3 linked regions of the Homo sapiens genome follow. The protein of the gene in region 1 purifies or fractionates together with the protein of each later gene. This does not show direct contact. Each region holds a gene or a part of one and is shown in the gene's direction. Other genes may lie near its edges. The genes, in order: RADX, RAPGEF4 and GABBR2.

What was found.
Region 2: the proteins of RADX (region 1) and RAPGEF4 purify together in Homo sapiens (affinity purification with mass spectrometry; one large-scale study listed by BioGRID and IntAct). This does not show direct contact.
Region 3: the proteins of RADX (region 1) and GABBR2 purify together in Homo sapiens (affinity purification with mass spectrometry; one large-scale study listed by BioGRID and IntAct). This does not show direct contact.

Annotation. Positions count from the first base shown.
Region 1 is NC_000023.11:106,621,942-106,625,597, forward strand, and holds part of RADX (RPA-related protein RADX), read left to right. Parts: intron 1-709; coding exon 710-852; intron 853-3,148; coding exon 3,149-3,341; intron 3,342-3,656.
Region 2 is NC_000002.12:173,029,300-173,032,955, forward strand, and holds part of RAPGEF4 (rap guanine nucleotide exchange factor 4), read left to right. Parts: intron 1-864; coding exon 865-955; intron 956-3,656.
Region 3 is NC_000009.12:98,387,315-98,390,970, reverse strand, and holds part of GABBR2 (gamma-aminobutyric acid type B receptor subunit 2 precursor), read left to right. Parts: intron 1-1,966; coding exon 1,967-2,117; intron 2,118-3,656. UniProt on the Homo sapiens protein: Component of a heterodimeric G-protein coupled receptor for GABA, formed by GABBR1 and GABBR2. Within the heterodimeric GABA receptor, only GABBR1 seems to bind agonists, while GABBR2 mediates coupling to G proteins.

The DNA of each region.
Region 1 (3,656 bases):
TTTGAGACAGGCTCTCAATTGCTCAGGCTGGAATGCAGTGGTGTGATCATGGTTCACTGCAGCCTGGCTGCAGTGAGCTCAGCTGCCTGGGCTCAGGTGATCCTCCCACTTCAGCCTCTTGAGTAGCTGGAGCTATAGGCACATGCCACCAGGCCCAGCTAATTTTTGTCTTTTTGGAGAGACATGGGGGTTTTGCCATGTTGCCCAGGCTGGTCTCAAACTCCTCGGCACAAGCAAGCTGATGGTCTTGCCCTCCTGAAGTGCTCAGATTATAGGCATTAGCCACTGCACCTGGCCCATTTCTATAAATTAAATATATAAGTGCTTAGTAATGGGAAAAATATTCCATGACATTGAGGTTTTTTTTTTCACAAAATATCTTAAGGGAGGTGAGTTTAAATCCAGGTTTTCCAGGAAGTTATTAAATGGTTTGGTAAGATGGAGGGCATTCTAGGTGGGACAATGTGTTGGTTAATATAGGTGTTTACCTATGTTCCAGGCACATAGTAAGCCCTATATATATTTCAGCTGTTAATATTAGGGATCAAATGTAGTTTATGAGAGGTAATAGACTTAGCTGGCAAGGTTTAGCTGGCAAGAAGGAGTCACTTTAGGTATGATCAAGCTACTATTTTTAACCATTAAAATAGATCTTTGAAGTTACCATTACATGTTAAACAGGATTTCTTTCCTCTTTTTTATATTCTAGATACCAAAATAATTTCCCTTTCTCATCTTGAAATGACCTGGACTAACAGAAGAAATTTTCCTGCATTGCTTGTGAGGATCTTACATAAATCAAAACTGCGATACTATGGAAAACCTGATAAAAAGATGATTGAACCATATCAGGTACAAGTAATAAGATATCATATGTTAATTTAAAAGTTATAAATTATAGCTTACACACCTCACTCCATAGTATGATAACCTGTTCGTTTAAATAACATTTCATAAGTTCAATGTAATAATTTTTAAATGTACGTAAATGTATATTATAAAGTATTTTTCTGCATAATTTATTGTACAAAAAGAAATTATTTCTGTATTGGTGCCCTTTATTTCCCTGATCCAGGTGGTCTCCTTCCCACCTTTTTATTTTCCTTCAACCTTTTCTTCTCACCTATGCTTTCTGTGCCAATATATAAACATACTCTAGTCTCCCATTTAAAAAAAGAAAAGAAAAGAATCTCCTTTGGCCTTATGACTCTTCTATTCCCTATCTTTCTCTTCAGGTAAGCTTCTTGAAGAAGTAGTCTACACTAGATGTTTTTACTTTCTTGCCTCCCATTTCTCAACACAGTTAGCTTGGCTTTTTTCCTTAGCTTATCATTCACTAGTAACTCTAATTGTCAAATCTGTGTGATACTTCTCTATTGTCTTGACTCTCTGTGCCATATAATGCTCATGAGCTCTACTTTCTTGATATGTTTGTGTTCTATTTTTTTCTTACTTAATATTATATTGTACTTTCCCATGATATCAAGAACTATTTTAGATGTTTCATTAAACTTTTATTATGAAAGTTATACATGCTTATTGTAGGGAATTTGGAAAATGTAGAAAGCTGTTTGAAGATCTTACCACTCAGAGAGAGCCACTGTTAACATGGTGTGTTTTATTCCCTTTCTTGTGTGTGTAAATCACATATATACACATATACAAGCATATCATATATATATATACATACACATATCTATGATATTTAATCATATATATCACATATATGTGCATATGTAGATGTATTATATATTTCATGTGAGTGTGTATATCATATATCACATTACATTATTTTACAAAATGGGAACCATATTGTGCATACAATTTTGTGTCGTTTAACATTTTCTTAAATATTTTCTCATATCACTAAAAATTCTTCATCCATAATACTTTACAGTTATATATTTTTAGCACATTCTATCATAAATTATTCAGTCATTCCCCGATAGTTTTTTGCCTTCTCATTGTTGCAATACTTTCCTCCCTGATTTTTTAACTCCGCTTATTTGTTGCCTTCCTACCTCTTTGTGCCTCCATCATTTCGCCCTTGCTTGCCTCTCCAGTCTCATCTCTTCCTGAGCTCTCTATGCTTCATACTAACCAAATTGCCCTACCTGGAATGTTCTAACAGTAACCAATTGTTTTCTACCTTTCATACCTCTGCTCACGTTGTTTCTTCTGCCTAGAATCCTCTTCCTCTCACTTCTCATCAGATTGGCAAAGCCATCTTTAAGATTCAGTTCAGTGCTTACCTCTGATTTAAGTCTTTCCATGTATACCCATATGCCTAGTCACTGGGAGAATCAACTACATGCTACTCAGGACCCCACTATATGCCCTTACATAGGTCTATCAGAGCATGCATAACCCAGTTACACATACCTGTTAATAGATTTGCTAATCTTACTCTACTGTGCGCTCCCTGACTGTAGGGAAGAAGTATCTAACAGTGCTTAAGAGTGCATGCCCTGTGGTCATATGAACTGAATTCAAGTTTCAGCTGTTTACCATTTCTTACCTTTATGATGTAGGGAAAATTATTTATCCTTTTAAAGCCTCAGTTTACTCATCTGTAAAATATGGATACTAATTGTACTTACCTTACAGGATTGATGTGAGGATTGAATTAGTAAAGGATTTACCTATGTTCCAGGCACATAGCAAGTCCTATATATATTTTAGCTATTATTATTAGGTACAATGTTTGATTCATCTCTGCATTCCAGGGCCTAACATAATCTCTGGAATATGGATTCAGTAAATGTTTAATGAATAAAGGAATGAATTACCCAAAATGTATATTCATCATTTAGAGAAAGGGTCTGAGAATATAACATCATTATTTAAGAAGAAATTAAGAATTAGAAAACACTTTACGGACTGCCTTTTAGGCCCAACTGAAGTTGTCTGTCACTGTATTTTAATACTGAGAAAAACTCCAAATACTTTCCACCTCAATACATTTCTCTATCTCTAATCTTTAGATGATCAATATTAGCAAAATTGACAACTGAATCATTATTAATAAATAATTAAAATTTAGATGTTATTTTCCATCACTCTAAATGATCACAAATAATATGCTATATATTATCTGTACAGATAAAAGTGACAAATATGTATGTGCTTTTACTCATTTTCTTTCTAGACCTTTTTGGAAGTTGCTGACAGTTCAGGCACAGTGTCAGTGATTATGTGGAATGCCCTGTGTCCTGAGTGGTATAAAAGTTTGCGGGTTGGTTTAGTTCTTCTGCTTCAAGACTATTCTGTTAAAAAGAGTTATCCATTCAGAATACAGCCTGTCCCCGTGGATCCACAGATCAAACTAATTTCTACAATGGGTTAAGTATTCCATGAATTTGTTGTCTTATCGCTGTTTTGTTTATATAAATTTGCAATGTACCATATTAGGAAAAAAGACCACAAAAATTACTGAAGCTGTTAGAACCTATGAAACCTTTAAATTTATTTGTCCATAAAATTTTCAAGCAATCACATAACCTAATAAATATACCTATTTATTATTTTATTTATTAAGAAAAATTATCTGAGACATTTATTGTTGATTGAAGAATGAGCTCCACTTGGATTGTACTTATTTTGTTTTATTTTATTTTTGGTCATATAATATTAAGTTAATAACGAATATATTTTGC
Region 2 (3,656 bases), on another chromosome or scaffold:
ATATGGTCAATTTCGATAACCATATTGATTCAGGATGAAGGATTTATGCGTATTGCAAAATGAATTCTTTCCCTTTTCAGGGACCTGGTATGAAGAAGTTTGGGGTTTCTCTTTCTAAAAAATGGTTAAACCAAGTACCTGTGTTAAACATCACCATTCTAATAAGAATTTCTGTTTTTTTCCACATGTCTCATTCCCAAACATATATTCATAAAAGCTAATAATGGCGTAAGTACAGATTCAAAATGATCAGCTTCATTGATGTCAGTAAAACACAGAGAAGGTTATTTCTTGGTCAGTTGTTTAGGTTACTTCTCAGCTTTAAAATTCCTTGAGATTGAGTGCCCAGCCTATAGAGATCACACCTTATAAGTTGATATTTTTCAACAAACAAGTAGCATTTGCATGGCAGGTAGAAGCCATGGTGGCTGCAGCTGTGAGACTCCCTTAGTGCCCTCTCAAGCTGCCAGAGGAGGATATCCACCTTCAGGCTAAAGGTCTAGAAATCTCCAAGGGCACTTCACTTTTTTTCTTACCCCATGAGATATTTCCCTCTCGGTCCAACAAGGCTTTTAGCAAGTTTGGGATTATAATAACAACCCCTAAGGTAGGTGTCTTTAAGTTCCTTCTCAGATCCCAAACCTCAATGGCTAACGTCTTCAACTTTCTAAAAACACAGTGAGAAATCAAACAGCAGAACATGGTCACCCAAGTGGAACTTTTACAGTACATTAAATCTATCATTGCCTGTTCTCATAAATGAGCCCTGACAAATATTAATGACTATCAGAAAATAGAACTCTAATTTTTTTTATCTCACACAGAAGTAACATTTTACTCAAACACGCATCTCCTGTGTTTCAGCTGTAAGGAGTATAAAAATCTGAATTCCTTTTTTGCCATCGTCATGGGACTAAGTAACGTTGCTGTGAGCCGCTTGGCACTAACGTGGGAGGTAAGCTTCAGCTAGGATCCAGCTGTGACTTTTGCCTTAGGAATAAAAACACAGGCTCACCAGTGAGCTTTTTAATAGAAATATCACTCACACTAGTATAACAATGGGAAAGGTGGGACACTTGGAGGGAGGTGACCTGTCTCCTTTTTCCAGTTGCCTCAGAGGGAGAATTTTTAAAAGATATTGTCCTTTTGTGTATGGAGAGTGGGGGAGATGAGGAGATGTCTACTTCTTGATATATGCAATGTAAATAAAAATAAGTCCAGTTCCTAAGTATAACATGAAGGACCCACATTGCTGGGAATGACTTCATAAGTTTGCTCATAGATTGTATTGTTTTCTGAAATGTCTGCTTGTTGCTTTTGCCATAAATCTTATCTTTAATTGAAAGAGGACAGAAGATCCATTTTTATCCAAGTACTCATTTTGCTTCTGGAAGGAAGAGCCAGGAAGCCAACTGTTTGCAGCAGTTGAGTACTAAGTGTCGCCTCACCACCTGGCAGACTTCTCTCCACGGAGAGGAACAACAGTTGGCTAATATTCAGTTTGGGGCAAAAGTGAGGCAGGTGTGTTGTGAGTCTCTGTAGCAAATATAATGAATGGTTTGTCGAGAGTTGGGTATTCAAGCTAGAAAACATCTTCATTTATTATTAGCTTTGTACTCAAAATGTGCTTGACCTCTTACACGTGGCATATAGTTGAAGAAATACTAATCTCTAATAGAACATACATACAGAAATAGACTCATGCTAAAAATAAAAAATTGTGTGTAAGTGGGACACAGAAAGAGGGCAAGGAGTATGTATTAGAGACCCAACTTGCAATGGTGCTTAAAGGCAGCTGTTTGCATCTCTAAATGCTTTTCTGAAATTATTTTCTTCCCCATGTCCTTCTTGCAATGATTTTCTTTTTCCGTCCCTCCTAAATGTTTCCATTGTTTGTAGGGCAGGTCCTCACAAGTCCTTCTGTCTTGGGTTTCTCTTAAAATTCCAGGCAGATGCAGCACACAGCAGCTCATCCCCTGAATATAGGAATGAGGGAATTGGTGAGGCCTGCGTGCCATGCAGCTATATCATCTTCCAGCTAGTAAAAGGACGGAGCTCGTGCTGCCAAGAGATCTAAGCACAAAGCCATAATGCAACTCCCTCGTCTTATAGTCCAAGGCTCTTGGGATTGCTGGAGACCTAGGGTCCTCCTGCAAAGAGTCTGCCTTCCCCAGTCAGCTACCAGCTTCTAATCCCCCTGCCACAGAGTCCAAATTAGTTGGTTGGGGACATTTTAAAAAACCATAAAGCCTCAAAGGGTCCAAGGAGGCCAGGTGTGGGTACCACAGATCAGCCAGACAATAAGAACAGAGCATGTGGGAAACACTCTCTGAACCCTCTTTCCCAGTCTAAATAAAAAAGTAGGAGGCTGCTGAAGAGGGTGCAGGCAGCAAAAGGAGATAGCTAACTGGCCAGTCCTTTGGTTTCACTAGGGATGGGAGTTCTGTGAGTCTATGAGCTTCTGTTTTCAGCACTGAATGTTGCTGAAAAGAGGAAATTATCCTTTCATCATTTATAAGCCTTTGTTTTTTAAGGTGAAGTATAATTATATAATTCTGTATGGGAGATTTCATTCCTAAGCACCTTTGATTCTAGTTTATGTACCTGCACTTGCCGAGAAAACCTCCCAAAAGCCTCCCATGCAACTCCATTGAGCACCACAGTGACCACAAGAGCAGTGTGAGAAATGCTGCCTGGCCTCATGGAACTAGGGGACACGTGTGGAACAGCCACGGAATAAAATAGAAAGGAAAGCCAGAGCACACAATAAAGGGAAGGGTTCAAAACTGAGGGGGAAGATCAAGCTGAGATGAAGCAAATGAGAATTACCTGGAGCACACACACTCTCTCAGCCTCAGCACTGGTGACATCTGGAGCAGAACAGTTCTTGGTCGTGGAGACGTCTTCTCTGTTGCAGGACAATTAGGAGCATCCCTGGCCTCTCCCCACCAGATGCTGGAAGCACCTCTTACCATGCCCCACCCCGGCTGTGACAACAAAAAAATGTCTGCACACATTACCAAATGCCTCCTGGATTGGCAGGATGGCCCTATTGAAAACACTGCTCTAGAAGCATGGGGGGGTGGATAAATAATAGTATTAAGAATGAAAGAAACATTTTTTATTACCCTGTGCCCTACTGTCTTTGACCTAAAAGAAAGCTAAGTAAAGAAAGAGAACAGATGACAGAGGTCTTGCCAAAAACATAATCCACTCTTATTTTTTTAAATGGACTAAATTCAGTAAGTCAATGTTTTTGCATAACTTGGTGATCTGGATACTCTGTGTGGGGTGAGATCCTGGCATCCCTTGATGCCCATCCCAGCTTTCAGCCCTTTGAATAGTCTCCCCTAAGTGAGGGCATCAAGTCTTCCTGAACCCTAACTTGAAATGCCAGAAAAATGAGTTTGGAGGATATACAGGGACTAGTTTTTAGAAACAAAATCGGGGTTTTACAGATGTTTAAATGGGAATATGACAAACTGAGATAGGAAAGAGAAAGAGCCAAGAAGAGCCATTCTGTGGATTGCAGAGGCCCAATTGGTGAATCAACTGTTGAAGGTAGGCTTCACTGTTCAAAGCCTCCTCCCAGATGACCCAGGAGTCTCTGAGACCCAGGGGTTGGTTGATGAGTTCCTAGTCCTGGGATGGGAAAC
Region 3 (3,656 bases), on another chromosome or scaffold:
CAAGCATTTGGTTTCCACAAAGTCTTAATACCCCTTGTGGAGCCATCATTTTGCAGGAACAGAAGAAGGAGTAAGAAGGAGACAACTTTCTCTTGTCTATTGTCAATTTTCTGGAGTTGTTTCTATACAATAGGCCCCAAACCCAGTAGTGATCATATCACCTGTGAACCAAACCTCAGTCTTCTTTCTCAGTGTCCATAGAAGGGCTTGTTTCCAGCCAGGATCTCACAGATGCCCCAGCACTGTTCTTGCATTTGGTAGCCAGAAGGCACCTGAGCCAGGTGTTTGGGGAAGGATGATGGACAGAGGTGGAAGAAGCTTCCAGATGGTGAGCTTTCACCATCTGGAAGCAAGAAATGATGTTACCTCCATCTCCTTGTGTCTGCTTTAGCCCAGACTTTTGGCCCTTGATGCCACTTTTCTTATAAATGTTAGTTTACATGGAATTGCTTAAGGCTTCACATTAACCACATCAGCAGGTTCCTTGATGTTTTCAAACCTGGAAACTTTCCTAAATTTCTTACATGGTTCAAACTCTTTTAATCCACTGAATGTTTCTCGCTCTCTATTTTTTTTTTTTTTTTTTTTTTTTTTTGTGAGATGGAGTCTTGCTCTGTCACCCAGGCTGGAGTGCAGTGGCATAATCTTGGCTCACTGCAGCCTCCATCTCCTGGGTTCAAGCGATTTTCCTGCCTCAGTCTCCCGAGTATCTGGGACTACAGGTGTGCACCAGCACACCCAGCTATTTTCGTATTTTCGGTAGAGACGGGGTTTCCCCATGTTGGCCAGGCTGGTCTCGAGCTCCTGACCTCAAGTGATCCACCCGCCTTGGCCTCCCAAAGTGCTGGGATTACAGGCATGAGCCACCACGCTCAGCCAAAGCCACTGAATATTTCTAAACACATTTGAACTTGCTAGCAGTGTTTTAAACCCAGATGTTCAGGGGAGTTCTCACTCCCTGCTACCACATCTGCCCCTTTCCTGCTTGTCTCCTGGGAAGAGAGGCATAACTGGGACCCTGGTGGGGCTCCCAGATTCCCAGGCTTGGCTACTTTGTAACATCCGGCTGATTCCACATACCCCTACTGGAGAGAAAAGCCCTGAAGTTTCACAATTCCACAGCAGAAACCTGACCTAAAATAGCAGCTAAGAAAGAGGGATTCGCAGGAAGCTGGGGGAGTCCCTGAATCCCTCATCCCAAACCAGTCTATGTCTGCTAAAACTAAAACAGGACTGAAAGATGGATTTGCTCTGAAACCCTCAGGGTTCCCCCGAGTTCCTTGTGCTCTTGAAGAATGAGCAGCGCACCTCTGCAGTCACATAGAGAAATGGAATCCCACAGTTCCAGGCCAGTTCTGGCACAGCAGGGAGAGGAAGGTAGCTTCTGCCTCCCACAGTTACTCAGAGTCTTGTGGAAACAGAAAGCCAGATAGAGCTTTTAAAACACAATGACATTGAAGCAGAAATTCTGCAGCCAAAACACCTATGTGTCACCATGGAACCAACAGGCAAGGTGTCCATCCTGTTGAGGAGGGATCATTTATTGTGTATGTTTAGGAGCAGAGATCTTGAGGCCAAAGCCAAGTTCTTCATCCCCGAAGGCACCCACGGGTACCCACTCACATCACCCAGCCCTGTGCTTCCAGGCCGTTGTTGCCTTGGGGGATAAATGGTGATGGTTTTTCAATAGTGTAATTAGACCAAATCAAATTCTAGTCTTCTAATGGCTATTAAATGCATCACAAATCCTTTATTGATTCTATTTAGAGAAAGAAATACAGTCCTAGCTCAGGCTCCCTGTTGAGCAGACTGGCCAACCACCGGATCTGGCTCACCCGGTAGATAGATGTGCCTTGTGTAGAGTTTGTGCGCAGGGCCTGGCTGGATGTCAGGGACACTAAGGCAAAGGTGTTCTCGGGGAATGACTTGCATTGGGTCCCACTGATGTCTTCTCTTGATCCTCTAGGATCCGAACCACCAAAAGACAAGACCATCATCCTGGAGCAGCTGCGGAAGATCTCCCTACCTCTCTACAGCATCCTCTCTGCCCTCACCATCCTCGGGATGATCATGGCCAGTGCTTTTCTCTTCTTCAACATCAAGAACCGGAATCAGAAGTAAGCCACCCTGGTCCTCCTCTGTGATATCACTTTCTAAATTGACAAGCCTATGGACACAGTATAGGAGTGCCACATGACAGATTCCCCAGGGACACAGAAGTCTGCAGGGCAGAGTTTCCCAAAGTGTTCCTCCGTTGCTAGGATGTTGTAGGTGTTACATGCATGTGAGTACGTGTGTGTGCGTGCACGCACACACACACACACACACACACACACACACACACACACACAGAGGCCAGGCTGCTGGTTGCACAGGAGTTTAGTCAAATAAGTTTGAGGAAGTTAAATAAAATCGAAGAGTCCAAGTCCACGGGCCTTCTCAGAGCTTTGGATATACTCCTGTACTTTGTGGAGGTCCAGGAGGAGAGATATAGAAGACAGAATACCCCAAACTTCTTTGCCCCTATCCCCTAGCATCGCTGGGAATCACCACTGAAGGGGGTCACAAAGTCCAGTGAAATGGACTCCCATTGGTACAGTTCATTACGGCCAGGAAGCCCTCCCTTCCATCATCCCGTATGACCCTCCGGATAACTCCTCATTTCACAGAGAAAAGCCCTGAAGTTCAGCGACAGAGTGCTGCTGTCCACTCGTGGCAGACTGTCTTCTTGGTTTCTTGTCTTAATTTCTTTTCCCCACCACGTGCCCTTAATTCTCCAGAGGAGAGAGGCTGACTGAGTTATTCTGGTCAGTCATGGGTAGAACAGGCCGCCACTCCAGGCGGTGGTTTTTACCAAGTGCATTTTGCTTCTTTGGTGTCCATAGCAAATCCCTGAACCCAGCCCCAAGCCTTTTTGTGGAATAAGCAGGGGTGCAGAGCATGGGCCGTCATGGGGACAGCCACAGTGACCACCTACATGGTGCCATGGCTCTGCCATGGTGCCCAGAAGCCACATTGCATGAACTCGTGGGCTGTCGGGAACAAGTCTGATTCTGAAGAAAACAGTTTTTTTGGTTTTTGAGATTTTTAAATTTCTCCCTGCTTGCAAAGAAGGAATTTGGAGGCTCTAGACTTTTGTGTGTGTGCTTGGTTTTTTAATTAATTAATTAATTATTTTAATTAATTTATTTTATTTTATTTTACTTTTTTAAGAGACAGTCTCACTATGCTGCCTAGGCTTTTCTCAAACTCCTGGACTCAAGCGATCCTCCTGCCTCAGCCTCCCAAGTTGCTGGAATTAGAGGCATGAGCCACTGTGTCCGGGGTTATTTTGTTGTTTGTTTGGCTTTTTTTGATAGCAGTTGCTTAGGTCAAACCTATTTCCTGAAAAACAGAAAAGAGTTTTCTTCTCCTGTTATTTTATTTTACTTACAACAAATAGCACATATACTGCCACAAAAAAAAGTGAGGCAACTTTTGTCCACTCCATACAAACCTTAAATGCTCAACATACCTCTTAGCACTTGGCACAGGCCTGGGCACATAATCAGCTCTCAAAGTTAGATTGACAGCCCAGATGCCTCGAGAAGTCCCATCAGGACAGCAAGTTGCCCCATCATAAGACTAAACTCATTGAATTCCTTAACTACCCCCTC